Regions from separate parts of the Homo sapiens genome. Here region 1 is linked to region 2. The links come from fine-mapping of genetic effects on plasma protein levels. A gene starts in region 2. The other region holds a variant in brackets. All regions are shown on one strand. Distances are from middle to middle.

What was found. PIP is the chance, under the fine-mapping model, that this variant and not a neighbour inherited with it causes the effect. The UK Biobank Pharma Proteomics Project read protein levels with antibody pairs (Olink). The fine-mapping took linkage between variants from a reference panel, not from the people measured, so its PIPs are less certain.
Region 1: its variant is fine-mapped to the plasma level of the SIRT2 protein (UK Biobank, PIP above 0.99). The variant lies in the coding sequence of SIRT2. If it changes the protein, the assay may bind it differently, which can mimic a change of level.

What each region holds. Positions count from the first base shown.
Region 1 is chr19:38,887,623-38,890,525 of GRCh38, reverse strand. SIRT2 (sirtuin 2) reads left to right here. Exons shown (of 16, transcript NM_012237.4): 5 at 382-423; 6 at 565-671; 7 at 781-837; 8 at 1,371-1,439. Among named protein-coding and RNA genes, the nearest start is that of SIRT2, 11 kb to the left of the region's middle. The variant G/A (reference allele first, on the strand shown) is at 1,396.
Region 2 is chr19:38,898,132-38,901,034 of GRCh38, reverse strand. It overlaps SIRT2 (sirtuin 2), which reads left to right and starts at 1,417. Exons shown (of 16, transcript NM_012237.4): 1 at 1,417-1,529; 2 at 2,610-2,656. The coding sequence starts at 1,514. NFKBIB (NFKB inhibitor beta) reads right to left here and starts at 1,066. Exons shown (of 6, transcript NM_002503.5): 1 at 824-1,066. The coding sequence starts at 1,002.

The sequences.
Region 1 (2,903 bases), 11 kb after region 2:
AGAGATGAGGTTTTGCCATGTTGGCCAGGCTGGGCTCAAACTCTTGACCTCAGATGACCCGCCTGCCTCAGCCTCCCAAAGTTCTGGGATTACAGGCATGAGCCACTGCACCCAGCCCAACACTGGATTCTTTATCCGCTGGCTGGCTCTTCCGCAGTTGATTGTGTGACTTCTTCCCCTATCTGAGCCCCAGTTTTCTCATTTATAAAATGGGGATGTTAACACCATCCCCGTCTAGATGATTGGAAGGCCCGTCATGCATCTGAGATGCTTGCCCCAGGGCCTGGCATGGAGTAAACGATGTCAGGGGCTGTGATGGGTGGTGCTATCGTAGGGACTGAGCAAACGGTGTCATATGGTGCATAAGTTCCTCTCCTCCAGGTCGCAGAGTCATCTGTTTGGTGGGAGCTGGAATCTCCACATGTAAGTAACCCTTCTCCCCCAGCAGCTACCCCCAGGAACTGGGGAGTCCCTCCCAAGGGCTGGGGAGGAGCCCTATCTGAGCCCTGTCCTGGGAGGGTTAGTATGGTATAGACCAACTGCTCCCTGACCCCCCTTTCCTAGCCGCAGGCATCCCCGACTTTCGCTCTCCATCCACCGGCCTCTATGACAACCTAGAGAAGTACCATCTTCCCTACCCAGAGGCCATCTTTGAGATCAGCTATTTCAAGGTTTGTGCTCCCCCAGGAAGGGGCGTCTGTGAGGGGTGGGGATGGGGTCACCTGGCTCCAACCCTCACGCTACCTGGGGCATCTGGCCCTCTGGCTGTCTCTCCTACAGAAACATCCGGAACCCTTCTTCGCCCTCGCCAAGGAACTCTATCCTGGGCAGTTCAAGGTGAGATCTTTGTTTTGCAGGGGGCGAAACAGGAAGGGTTGGGGGAGGGCACGCATGAGAAGCCCCGCCAAGGCCCTGCAGACAAATATTATGTAGCCATTAAGTACATGGGTGCTGGGCCCAGACTGCCTCGGTTCAAGTCCTGGTTCCTCGTGTCTTCATCTTACGACCTTGAGCCTCCGATTTGCCTCCTGTGAAGTGAAGCTAATGGTACTGTCTGAAGAGGGCTGCTGCGAGGCTTAGCTGACTAATGATGCCGTTGAGAGCCCGGGACCCTGCAGCCGGGCTGCCTGGGTGTGAATCTCAGCTCTGCAGCTTACCCACCGTGTGACTTTGGCAACACAATCCCCTTCCCTGTCCTTCAGTTTCCTCATCTGTGATCTGGGGATAGCAGTGGTCTCTCCCCGACGCGGCTGCTGTGACGGTTCCCTGGGGGTAAAACAGTCACAGTGCCTAGAACAGTTCCTGGCATGCGGCAGTGGCCTGTGGCTGTTCCCTGCAGTCGTCAGCAGTGCTGTCGCTCTTCCCTGCAGCCAACCATCTGTCACTACTTCATGC[G/A]CCTGCTGAAGGACAAGGGGCTACTCCTGCGCTGCTACACGCAGGTAGGCGGATGCGAGCATCCTGGGAGGAGGATGGGCGGGTGGAACGGGCATGGTGTCCTCAGCAGAGGAGCAGAGCTGCGTGCCCAAGAGCTCAGGCGGGGACTCCAGCAATGCGGGGCCAGGGCTTGGCCTACTGCCTCCTTGCTGCATGACCTGCCGTGAGTCACGTCTTCTCTGCCTCAGTTTCCCCTTCCGTCAAACAGGGGCCAGAAAAGGTTTGCCCTCTCAGGTCTGCCCTCTCAGGTCTGCAGTGCGGTGGCAGTGACCTCCTCTCAGGGCCATCCCATGTGTGATGTGGAAGGAGCCTATGGCTGAAGGGACTCTGTGTGCACTATAGGCACCCCAGATTTCACATTGGTTATGAGCGAGTTTCCAAAGTGACTTCATCTAACAAAATCCATACACTATGACACGTGTCCAACAAGTAGATGTTGTGCCTTAAGGAAGGGGCACCTTTTTATAGTTTTTTGTGCTTTGCCCAATTATAAACATGTCTCGTACACGTCAGGTGCTTAGCCAAGGGCCTCTCCCTGGGGCATTCAAGCAAGGATGGCTCACATTGTTGGCTTCTGGTTTGGAGAGTCTCACACCCCTAACAGTAAAAAAATCTTGATGGGCTGGGCACAGTGGCTCACACCTGTAATCCCAGCACTTTGGGAGGCCAAAGCGAGAGATAGCTCGAGCCCAGGCGTTTGGGACCCGCCTGGGCAACATAGGGAGACCCTGTCTCTACAAGAAATACAAAAATTAGCTGGGCAGGGTGGCGTGTGCCTGTAGCCCCAGCTACTCAGGAGGCTGAGGTAGGGGGATTGCTTGAGTTCAGGAAGTCAAGACTGCAGTGAGCTATGATGGTGCCACTGTACTGTAGCCTGGGAGACCTGGTTTCAAAGAAACAAAAAACAAATCAAAACAACAACAAAATGTTGCTGCCTCTACCTGTTTTATGAATATGTATAGAAATGACATGATGCACTACAACAGTATTAATTCAAGCTCTAGATCACACCTCAGAACCCCGAATTATAAAACAGGTGGCCGGGCGCGGTGGCTCACGCCTGTAATCCCAGCACTTTGGGACACCGAGGTGGGCAGATCACGAGGTCAGGAGTTCAAGACCAGCCTGTCCAACATCATGAAATCTGGTCTCTACTAAAAATACAAAAATTAGCCAGGTGTGGTGGTGCCTGTAACCCCAGCTACTCGGGAGGCTGAGGCAGGAGAATCGCTTGAACCTGGGAGGCAGAGGTTGTAGTGAGTCAAGATTGTGCCACTGCACTCCAGCCTGGGTGACAGAGCAAGACTCCATCTCAATTTAAAAAAACAAACAAACAAACAAAAAAGAGTGGTAACATTGAAAATAAATAAGTGTTCTAGTGTTTTCTCCCTGTACCTGCAGTTTGGCACCTGCAGCCCCAAAAGCTACCGCCAGGGGGAGGAACAACTGGCTTTAAGTTCAGATTTCTC
Region 2 (2,903 bases):
CTGCTTTATTTTTCTCCAAAGTACTTAACTACCTCTGACTTTATTTCCTTTTCTTACTTTCTATGTTTCTTTCTTTCTGCGTGTCTTTCTTTGTTTCTTCCTGTCTTTCCATTTCTTTCCTTCCTTGTGGTCTTATCAATCTGTTTATTTAGCTCCACTAAAATGTATGCTCCACAAGGGCTTAAGTTTTTGTTTGTTTTCTTCACTGCCTTTATCACTAGCACCTAAACGGAGCCTGGAACGTGGTAATGTGTAAAGAATATTTGTTTAACAGATGAATCCTTGGTCTCATGGAGCTAACATTCTTTTTTTTAATTTTCCTATTTTTTTACTTTAATTAGGAATTCAACATAGAAGAGCTTACATTCTCTCTCTTTGAATTTAAGATTTGAAGAACACTGCTCAGAAGACAGGATCTTAGAGTCAGGGACCAAGTATTAATTTCGGAAATCAAACTCTAGGGCTCAAATCGGGAACTAAGAATCAAAGATCATATTTGGAGGTTAGAAGTCAGGAGAAGCCACAGTTCTAACAGAAGTCTCAGGACTGGAGTCAGGTTTGGGTATCAGTGGATACAATGTGGATTCCAGGAGCTGAGAATCATAGTTCAAGAAAAGAAGGTAAGAAATGATTGGGTTAGGATCATAGCTAGATAGAAGATTGGTTTTGTTAAAAGTTAGGACTCGGGGGTTAGAGGTCAGGAAGTTCAGCATCGGAAGTCAGATTTAGGAGTATGAGGTTAGGAAGCCTCAGGGATCAGAGATTAATGAGGAATGTGACGCCGGGTCCTAGGGCTCCGTTTGGCAGCCTAAGGTTCACTCACGTGTCCCCATCCTCAGTGACGTAGCCGAAGACGAGGGGAGCCCACGACAGCCCCGGGCCCAACTCCGCGCCCAACCCAGGTCCTCCGGGGGCCGCTGCGTCCGGACCCAGGGAGCCCAGGCCGCTGTCGCACCATTCATCTGCGTCGGCAGCTTTTCCCAAGCACGCGACCCCAGCCATGGCCCCCGCCGCCTCAGGGGCCCCCCGCAGTCGCCCGCCTGTAGCTGGGCTTTGCCGGGAGTTCTGGAGCTTCCGCCCTGCGGGAAATTCCCCACCACGCCCCCTGATTCACCCAATGATAATATGCTGAATCGCTCACACCCCGCCCTCGTACTGCATCCTGACCAATCAGAGTATTCGGGAGGACTACAACTCTCTAGCCGTTCCCACATTTTCCGGGCGCCCTTTACCAACATGGCTGCTGACGCCACGCCTTCTGGGACTCGTAGTCCGGTCCTCGCGCGCTTTCTTACCTAACTGGGGCGCTCTGGGTGTTGTACGAAAGCGCGTCTGCGGCCGCAATGTCTGCTGAGAGTTGTAGTTCTGTGCCCTATCACGGCCACTCCCATTTCTGGTGCCGTCACGGGACAGAGCAGTCGGTGACAGGACAGAGCAGTCGGTGACGGGACACAGTGGTTGGTGACGGGACAGAGCGGTCGGTGACAGCCTCAAGGGCTTCAGCACCGCGCCCATGGCAGAGCCAGACCGTGAGTCGGGGATCCGGGTAGGAGGGTCGGGCCGCGCCGGGGCCTGGCTGAATGCTGCAGGCCCCGGGGCCCAAGGGTGGCCGCGGTGGGGCGGGAAGTAGGGAGCGCTTCGGGGAGTGGGATTCTGAGGGCTGTTGCTTAGCGATCTGTATCGCTAGGCTGGTGGGTTTCTGGGTCGCAGTGTGTTCAGGGTTCGTTTACCACATCCACTTGCCAAGTTGCCAATGATCGCGTGTTTCTCGCACCTTGGTTGCTAAGGTCCCTCGCTGCAAAGAACATAAGTTGCCCCGGTCCCGCTTGCTATGGGTACCTGATTGTTAGAGGCAACCAGAGGATGCTGAGGGACCCCTGCTGACCCCTCCTATGGCTTCCCCTTGTTCCGCGCCTCTCCTAAACCTACCGCCTCCACTGCACCACTGCACCTCCCTCCTAAACCTGCCTCCCAGCCAAAGCGTCTCTTCCCTTCTCTTTTCCTTTCTAAACTTCCCTCTGCCTTGTAAATCTAACCCTCCCCGCACACACACTCACACACTGTCGTGTCCTTCCTAACTCCTCCTGAGTGTTCCTTCATGCCCTGAATCCCCTAGGTAGGAGGAGGAGGATCGCTTGAGCCCAGGAATTTGAGGCTGCAGTGAGCTATGATCGCACTATTGCACTCCAACCTGGGTGACATGAGCGAGACCCTTTCTCTAAAAAGTAAAAAAGAAAGAAAGTAAGTCAGGGCCAGAAACAATGGCTCATGCTTGTAATCCCAGTACTTTGGGAGGCCAAGGTGGTTGGATCGCTTGAGCCCAGGAGTTCAAGACCAGCCTGGGCAAAAGCCCCTACTTTCTCCCTGTCCCCCTAAATCTTCCTCTCCAGCCTCTCTGCCCCTCACTAATCACCTCTCCCGGCATCACTTTGCATGTAGATAAGATCTTTTCTCCGTCCCCTCCCTCCCTCTGCTCCATTTTTACCACCATCCCATCCCAGTGTAACTAGGTTGGTGGGTGTTCTTGCCCCCTCACTGACCATTTGAACCCCTTTATTCCCCCCTTAATCGTTCTCCCCACTGTAACCACCTCTGCTCCCCTCCCCCAGCCTCTCACCCTCTGGAGACCCAGGCAGGGAAGGTGCAGGAGGCTCAGGTGAGATGGGGGAAAGGGTGGAGGGGAGGAGAGAGACGGACTTGTTCCACATCCCACACTGGGGGGAGGTGGCAAAGGGGAAACAGTCACCCCAGGGCCCTCGGCTCATTGCCCCAATCCCTCACACCACCCAGTGCAGCTTTCTGGGGAAAGGCAGATTCTGGGGATTGTCAGAGAAGAGTTTCCAGCCTCAAGTCCAGGCCTGTCCTCCCAAACTTTCCTTCTTCCTTGCCACTGCCTGCCATCC